Linked DNA regions of Homo sapiens: region 1 is linked to region 2. The links come from fine-mapping of genetic effects on gene expression. A gene starts in region 2. The other region holds a variant in brackets. All regions are shown on one strand. Distances are from middle to middle.

Region 1 (4,401 bases), 700 kb before region 2:
TTTACCCTTGAAAAAGATCCCTCTCGCCACTATGTAGGAGATAGTTTGTGTGTTTGTTTGAAGGGGGTTTGCTTACAAAAATGAAAACAGAAAGGTCGGTTAAAGCACAAGTGCAGTCATTCAGGCAAAAGATGGTCATGATTTGGACTAAATGGTAATAGGTAAGCTTATGAGAATTTGTTAAATTCATATGTATCTTGAAGGTAAAGATAACAGATTTATTGATCAATGAAAAGAATAGATTATGAAATTAGACTATTAATGAAGACTTAATTTTTGCTCACTGAATGTGTAGATGTCAATTCCATTAACTAAGATGGGAAATATCAGGTGGGAGGGAAATAAGTTGGGAAAAGTAGGAAATAAAGGGTCTTTGCTTGGAAAATGTTAAGTTTGGCATGCCCATTGGATATCCAAGTGGAGAGTTTAAGAAGATAATTAAAAATAAATGTTTGGTGCTCAGGGCGAGGTGAGGACTAAATCAATAAATTTGGCATCATCAGGATATGGATAAAATTTAGGCCCGGCGCGGTGGCTCACGCCTGTAATCCCAGTACTTTTGGAGGCCAAGGCGGGCGGATCATGATTTCAGAAGATTGAGACCATCCTGGCTAGCACGGTGAAACCCTGTCTGTACTAAAAAAATACAAAAAATTAGCCAGGCTTTGGTGACGGGCTGTAGTCCCAGCTGCTCCGGAGGCTGAGGTAGGAGAATGGCGTGAACCTGGGAGGCGGCGCTTGCAGTGAGCCGAGATTGCGCCGCTGCACTCCAGCCTGGGCTACACAGAGAGACTTCGTCTCAAAAAAAAAAAAAAAAAAAAAAAAAAAATTAAAGCTTTTTAAAGCTAAAGGGCTGAATGAGTTCGTCACCTTGGAAAATAGTAGTCATTCTGATTTACTTGTTACATCTCAAACATTCCATGCTTTCTCATACCTCCACCATTATAGGCAGTTAGGTAATAGTTTTCTCTGAAAAATACAGCTAATCTTTCACATCTTACCCAAGTCTTCCCTCTGTAGTAAAACTTTTCCTGATGACCTGTAAAGAGTTTCGGAGTGATTAAAACATTTATTCCAACCATCCATTCATCCATTCATCCATTCAACTAGTGGATGTTGGATAGCTAATCTATGCTACAGAGTTTGCTAAACATTTGGGGTTGCCATGGTAAATACAATATACTGTATCTCTGTCTTTTGGAATTGTTTGTCTTCATACATCTTCTGGAGCCATATTTCTCTAATGTTGAGTTGTAACATTGTGGGCCATTAAAACAATTTCCTAAGTTTTGGTTAGCTTGAAGAAAAGAGATAGAAAAAATAAAATAGAGGATATCATATCATGCATAACAATAGTAAATAATGCTTTATGAATTATTTTTTATCCTGATGCAGGTATCTACAATATTGAAACAATGTTTTATTTTTATTTTTATTTTTTATGGAGAGTGTTCAAAAAAGTTGGAAAGACATTGTAGGAAACCACTTACCACTTTGTAAGTCTCTCTCTCTCCATTTGACTGAACTCTGTGGGGGAAAGAGCCCAGTCTTCTTACAGCCTTATTACATTTGAATCCTCAGCATGTAGCTCCTGATGTGGATCAGGTAAGCAAGAAATGTTTGTGGGAAAAGACGGTGGGAGGGAGAGAAATCACAGAAAGTGGGGCATTACAAGCAAGCAGCACTTAGTACCACTGAAAGTTGGCCTCTGGGGAGTCATGAGTGATTAACCAAGCATTGGGGTTCTCTGCATTGTGATTGGAGGGTAAGTACAGGGCAACTCCAGAAATAAATAGATTTTGCAATTGCTGTACAACAGAATGAAATAATACCTACACATCAAATCAAATGAAAGTCTTCTTAATGTCTGGTACTGTATTGGTTGTTATAAAAAACTGACCTTTTGTTTTATAATACCAATTCTATTTGGTTTGAAAAATAAATAAATATTAAGTCATTGTTACTTGCTTCATATCTAATTTATTGATGTAAAATTTTGTCCTCTGTGCCAATGTGCATCTCTGATTTGTAGATAACTTCTTTATTCTTGGTAATAATTAACAGCCTTAGGAGAAAGAAGTCTGTGCTTAAATGGAATGCTTGATCTCAGAAAATGGAAAGAATTTCAAGACTCTGATTACTTTATG[A/T]CAAAGACATTTTACTGCCAGGAAAAATGGTAAAAAGCTTTTACTTTGATTTAGTCCTTGTTTTTCAATTCTTCCATTAAATTCAAATTTTATGTAATAGACCGTAAATATCCATTTTTAAAATTTAATATTTTTTACATAAAATATTTATTTCCTATGTCTTTGAACTGGAATAGAATTTGTGCATGCTGTTTTAATTTAAATACCATCATGACCATAATCTGAACATGTAGAAAAATATTTCTAGACCTCTTTGTTTAGTTTACTATTTTATTAAGAACTTTTCTAAACAAAATGTTCTTATTTTTACAAGTTTCTCAAAACAGAAGGGTAGAATTTTAAAAGCTCTGAATATAAGAGGGCTTTGATAATGTTTTGATTAAGGAAGGAAAGAGGGAAGAAATAAAAAAAGGAAAAAAAGAGGGTAAGAAAGGAAACTAAAGAAAGGAGTTAAGGGAAGAATAATGAAAAAAATGTATTTAACATCTACGTCTTGCTATAAGGTTAGATTCCCACTTCTTCCAACTTTTTCTCCCTTTTTTCTTTCAGATTATGGTCATAATGATATTTTAAACCAAACAACATTAATAATAATAATAAAGTTTTACCTGGAAACAGAAATAGAAAACACCATAAAAAAGCATGGTCCTGCAGCCACACAGTTCAATCCTATGAAGGTATTCAAATTAAATTCTAGAGTATGAAAACCTTTTTTAAAATCAAATTATAGAGCAAACTACTCTTTAAAAAACAGATTAGACCAGGTGCGGTGGCTTACGCCTGTAATCCCAGCACTTTGGGAGGCTGAGGCAGGTAGATCACGAGGTCAGGAGATCAAGACCCATCCTGGCCAACATGGTGAAACCTCATCCCTACTAAAATACAAAAAATTAGCAGAGCGTGGTGGCACATGCCTGTAGTCCCAGCTACTCGGGGGGCTGAGGCAGGGGAATTGGCTGAACTTGAGAGGTGGAGGTTGCAGTGAGCCGAGATTGCGCCACTGCGCTCCAACCTGGCGACAGAGCAAGACTCTGTCTCAAAAACAAAAAACAAAACAAAACAAAACAAAACAAAATTAAAAAAAAACAGATTATATGTAGCCACATGCCCAGCAGAGTTGACAATGTGGCGTATACTTGCAGTAAAGTACAAATGTGTTGGGGAAAGAAAATTGTATTTTCATAGATTGTTTCTAAGAAGAACATTATTTTCTTTTGGCCAAAAACCCTGAAGGCAGGAAGGGAAACGGAGTGAACTGCATGCGGAGATGAAATAGGAGTGGGAAGTTTCAGACGAATAAAAATCAAGCTGAAATCCCTTTCCACTCTCCCTCCTCACACACATTTTCTATATGGTTACTAAATTCATAACATGTTTGGCACACTGATTAGCATATGGTAGCACTCAATGAATGTTAGATATTATGTTGAATGGATTGAAACTGATGGAGTTGAGGCAACACTCTTGAAGAGATACATAAATGTGGGAAGCTGACCAACAGTCTCCAAAAGACATCCACATCCTAATCCCTGTTATCTGGCAGAGGGAAATTAGGGTTCTACATGGAATTATAGTTGCTAATCTGCTTTTTTTTTTCAATGAAAAGAATATCTTATATTATCCAGGTAGGCCCAATGTAATCACAAGGGTCTTAAAAGTGAAAGAGGAAAGCTGAAGAGAAGGTCAAGGTGATGTGATGTGAGATAGACTTAATGCACTTTTACTTACTTGGAAGTTGGAGAAAATGGCTAGGAGCTGAAGAATGCGAGCTTGGTCTAGAAGCTGGAAAAGGCCAGTGAATGGATGGATTCTCTTATAGCGACTCCAGAAAGCAACACAAGCCTGCTGAAACCCTGATTTTAGCCCATTAGGACCTGTACCAGACTTTTGACCTGCAGAACTATAAGATAACACACTCCATGTGAATTTAAGCCACTGACTCTGCGTTAAATTTTCACAGCAATAAAAAACTAATATAATGAGTAAGCAAACTTACAGGGATCTGCAGAAATGATTTTGCTAGTGATGTTTAGGAAAAGTGCAAACAGATCTCAGAAGAGATTGTGAAGATCTCATTTAATGGTTTACATTCTTTTTTTTTTTTTTTTGAGATGGTGTTTCACTCTTGTTCCCCAGGCTGGAGTGCAATGGCACAGTCTTGGCTCACTGCAACCTCTGCCTCCCAGGTTCAAGCAATTCTCCTGCCTCAGCCTCCCAAGTAGCTGGGATCACAGACACTGGCCACCACGCCTGA
Region 2 (4,393 bases):
CAGGGTGAGCCCAGCCGGTGCTGCGGATCTAAACTGGGGGCAGCGGGCGAGAGCGGCAGCTGCTGGGGCAGGAGGCCACTGGGCTCCGGCAGTCCCTCGTGGGATTTGTCCAACAGCCCGACTGCGCGCCCTGGGGAACAACGTGTTCTCTGTGGGCAGGGTGCCAACAGGCGCTCGATGGGGAGCGAGGTGGGAGGGCTTCTCCTGAAGCACTCAAGATGAGCGAAAACCCCTTGAACCCAAGAAAGCCGCCCTCCCTGGCTCCAACCCTCACCCCGGCTCCCTAATGCGCACACTCTTGACGTCCTTTCCCTCTCTCTTCAGCCCTCTCCAGCCAGCGGGGGTCCCTGAGATTACAGCCACCTTCTCTCTACACGGTCACACGCACGCGTGTGTGCAGTCACTCACACCCACACACTGACACACAGAAACGCACACACACCACCCCAGAAACGCACACACACACTCACACTCGCTGGCCTTCCGCGTGCAGCACCCGAAAGGCATGAATATTCATTACTTACAAGCATTAGTGACTGCGAAGCTGTTTGCCACCTCCAAATTGTCGATGTGGGGTGTCAGTCTGAACTCCGAAGTGGAAAACTGAACCATCCCTACTCGAAATGCACTGTATTCTTGATCGGCGCCCCTAGGAAATAGCCCCCCTGCAAAGAACAAACAGCAAGCAAGAGAACAGTGTCAGTGCCCCGGGAGGGAAAGGAGGGGCGCGCGCTAGCGCCCAAAAATCCAAGAGTCTCTTATTCACGCGAATAGGCCGAATAAACACACCTACGGACTCGGACAGCGGGGGTGGAATATCCAAAAGCTAGCCAAGGGGTCAAGACCCAGATGAGAGTCTGAAGGCGAGGTAGGCGGCCAGAAACCTTCACCTTTCCATGTAATCACAAGCTTTGCATTCAGACCCCAAGAAAATCTGAGCAAACTGGAAAATGTCGCTAAGGCAGAATTAATAAAATTTGGGGATCCGAAATGAGAGGACCTTTTCTTCTATTGTATCAAAGGCATAGTCTTTTCCTTTTGCTTCATCCTAAGAAAAACATGTATATTCTAGGTAGTTTAAATCTGGAATGCAGTCAAGGTATGACATAAGTCTACATGACATGAATTAATTTGTACACTGTGAACAAAGATTACCACCAAATTATGCACAATTCAAAAGCATAGCACAAAGGGTACCTACCTATCTGTATGCTGTTAGAAGAGACACCAAAAATCAGTCCCCATAAAACAGGAGAAAGGAGGACAGAAATATGCATAATCTTTTGCATTTCCAAGAAAAGTAGAGCATCCACAATATACCCCTTTTTTTTTCCTTTTCCTCCTCTTCCTTCTTTGGCTGTTTTCCTCTGCAAATTAGATCCTCTGCATTTTGAGACAGCAATTTAGCACCAAGCTGCTAAAACCTGAAGTGGAGGCAGAAGAATCCCTATTTCCCAGGTCCTGCTGGTGGCTGCTGATGCCCTGCGCCCTGTCCCCGCTCCAGAAGTCCGGAGGACTGGCTGAATGCAGTTTTCAGCGGAGCTGCCGCTGTGGTCCCAGTGTCTCGGAATATTCAGCACCCTCCCATGCACTCACACACACTCACCCTCTCTCGCGCTCTCTTCTCCCTCTCTCCTCTCTCACTCACGCGCGCGCGCACACACACACACACACACACATACACACACGCACACACACAGGCAAGTCACAGAGAGGGGCAGGCAGTCCCGGGCGCGCGTGCGCGACTCGCGGCAGGAGGCGGGAGCGCGCGCCCCCTCCCCCGCACGGCGCCCGGCACCCCGCACCACCGTGGACGCGTCGCGTGCGCGGCGCTGAGAAAGCACAGCTCGGGGCCCGTAGCCGCTGTCCCTCCGCGAGACCTCGGGTCTCCGGGGCTGTCGCGCCCACCGCGCGCCTCGGCCTTTCAGCACCGAGGACAGCGCCTCGCTCCCCGCCCGGAGCTACCTTCGTGCGGCTGTTGCAGCTGCTGCGGAGATGCTCCAACCTGGACCAAATGCAGCAAAGCTGATCTCCGGCTGCTGTGTAGAAGCCGAATTGCTAATTGTTGGCGGCGAAGCGTCCTCTCACCAGGCCCTGCTGTCTTACGTTACAAATAATTTTGATTTTTATCTTCCATCTCCTGTGAAAACCCATTTAGCAATACAGAAGCCCTGTCATCCTCCTCACCTGACCCAGCCGAAAGCAAACAAGCAAGCAAAGCACCGTGGAGGAAATATTCCAAAATTGTGCACTTGGGCTTCATGGGATGTAGCCAGGATCCAGGGAGAACCCCAAGTTATATCTTTAAATGCTTAAGCCGCACAAGAGATCAAGATGGAATCTTTTAAATATTTTGCATGAAAATCCCATCTTTAGAGTATATTCCATTGGGCTGTGATGCTGACTCGCCTAGTTACAGAGCGCACGGGTCTTTCTCGCAGCTTTCACTGCAATCCCTCCCTTGTAGAGTCATGTAGACTTGGTTTCCTAGAAGCCCTTGCTTTATGCAGATTGAAAGCAAGAGACTCTGGTTTAAGGAAAGGCTATTAGAGGAAAGTGATTAGAAGATGAAGCTAGTGTAGGAATGCCACAGAGATGCAGATTCTTTCCCAGAGACTTACTTAGAAATCTGTTTCCCCATCGCGTTTTGGCCGGGGGTTTCGAAAAATCACTGCCTAAAGAAAGTAAGCCACCACGCTCTACTGAACACGCGGGCCACAGGGAAAGAAAGATGAGGTTAGATATTAAAAGTTTGAAGGGAGAGAATTGATGGCGAGATGGATGACTGGACTTCCCGTGTGAAATTTATGTTCTTCATGGTGCTTTTTCCAAGCTCATTCCTGGAAACCTGCTCTGACAATTCCCTCTGCGGACTCAGAAAAGCCCCACCAAGTTGCATGTCTTTACTGGTTTAAACAAATAAAGAAAGATTGAGAACAAGGAACTGTTTCCAGGAAGAGGGAGATTGGAGCTTACAGTACTAAAAAGAGAACTGCTAGTATTCCAAAATGCCATGAGTCTATCAGGCTGCCTTCTTGTGCTTGCAGCTTCATTGCTGACTGGATTATCTTATGCTTGCTTCTTAATCACATTGGCCTCAATTTCCCCATTTTAAAAATGATGATGAGCAAAGTGGCTTCTATGGCTCTTGGATCCTATATTGCTGTCATTTCAAATTATAACCTTTCCCTCTTTTTGATGTAGTCCTAAACCATGAAGTGAGAATAGCTGTAATCTATTATTAAGCTTATAAACTATAGACTAAAATATCTCTTAATTTTATGCCTTAGAATTTTATTAGTATGTTATAAGTACTCCACACTGTATATAAAGCAGGTCTTCTAAATAAAAATGTATTTAACCTTTAAAAAATTGAATAATAAAAATAATATATAAAATTAATTAAAATTACAATAAATCGATAAAAAATAAAAAATGAGATATAACTTACATATATTCAAAATTGCAACATAAAGAATAAATAAATCATACATATTTAATCATTATTTGTGATGTAAGGTATACAAAATGATTGGAAATTATTACCTATTTAAAATTTTTAATGTAAAAGCACTAAGAACAGAGCAAAATTTAAAATACCTCTGTAGTTATTTTTTTCTCGATTCACTTGTTTCCACAGGAAAACTTTAATTTCATAGAAAGTAACTTAGAATTAAAGAGAGCGAGGACAGAGAGAGAGGAAGCTTCAATATGAAAAAAATTTGATGTTTAAAATGTGAGTTCAGGTGAATTGAATTTTAAAAAATAAGAATGTTTTCAAACTATTTTCATCTTAACCTATTTCAAAGTCAAGGGCAGATATGAACTCAAAATTGACTGAGTTACATTCTATAAAAAACAAATGCTGTAAAAATAAGAATTTGCTGAATCATAGAGTATAGTAACTAATATGTAAGAGCTCAAGAAAAATATTACTGTCTAGTGGCCAATTACAATTTATATATAAGGTGGAAATAAAAATTTTAGCAAGCATTACTTGTAATTCAACTGCTATTCTATGTATCTATGTTCACAAGGTAGTTATGTATAGACCTTTCACATATTTGGAAACTTATTTCCTATATCAGCATAATTTTATTAATATTATCACTCATGAGACTTTTTCAAATTTCTTATAATGTTTTAATAGCATGTATGTTTCAAGCACAGAATCCTGTCAATATAAGGGTAATAAATTTAAATTGACTACAGTAAATGGTTCTTTATACAAATACATGGAAAAATACTGGAATTTATTTTGTGAATGTACACGGCTCTATTTTTTCATGTAGCAACTTCCTATTTCAAGAATATGTATTTCAAATTGATCACCAATCAATTTTGAAAACTTCAAAACTACTAGATCTACAGTTGACTAGAATAGTGTGCTACA

Alleles and levels. Alleles are on the strand shown, and positions count from the first base shown. SD is a standard deviation of normalised expression in the study named.
With allele A in place of T in region 1, the expression in aorta of the gene that starts at base 1,604 in region 2 is higher (moderate effect, 0.57 SD a copy in GTEx).

What was found. PIP is the estimated chance that this variant, and not a neighbour inherited with it, causes the effect.
Region 1: its variant is the best candidate, but not a certain one, in a credible set for the expression of GRIA2 in aorta (GTEx, PIP 0.75).

What each region holds. Positions count from the first base shown.
Region 1 is chr4:157,915,947-157,920,347 of GRCh38, reverse strand. All of the region lies in intron 3 of LOC105377509 (a long non-coding RNA gene), which reads left to right. Among named protein-coding and RNA genes, the nearest start is that of GASK1B-AS1, 250 kb to the left of the region's middle. The variant A/T (reference allele first, on the strand shown) is at 2,148.
Region 2 is chr4:157,217,939-157,222,331 of GRCh38, reverse strand. GRIA2 (glutamate ionotropic receptor AMPA type subunit 2) reads right to left here and starts at 1,604. Exons shown (of 16, transcript NM_001083619.3): 1 at 1,202-1,604; 2 at 525-665. The coding sequence starts at 1,289.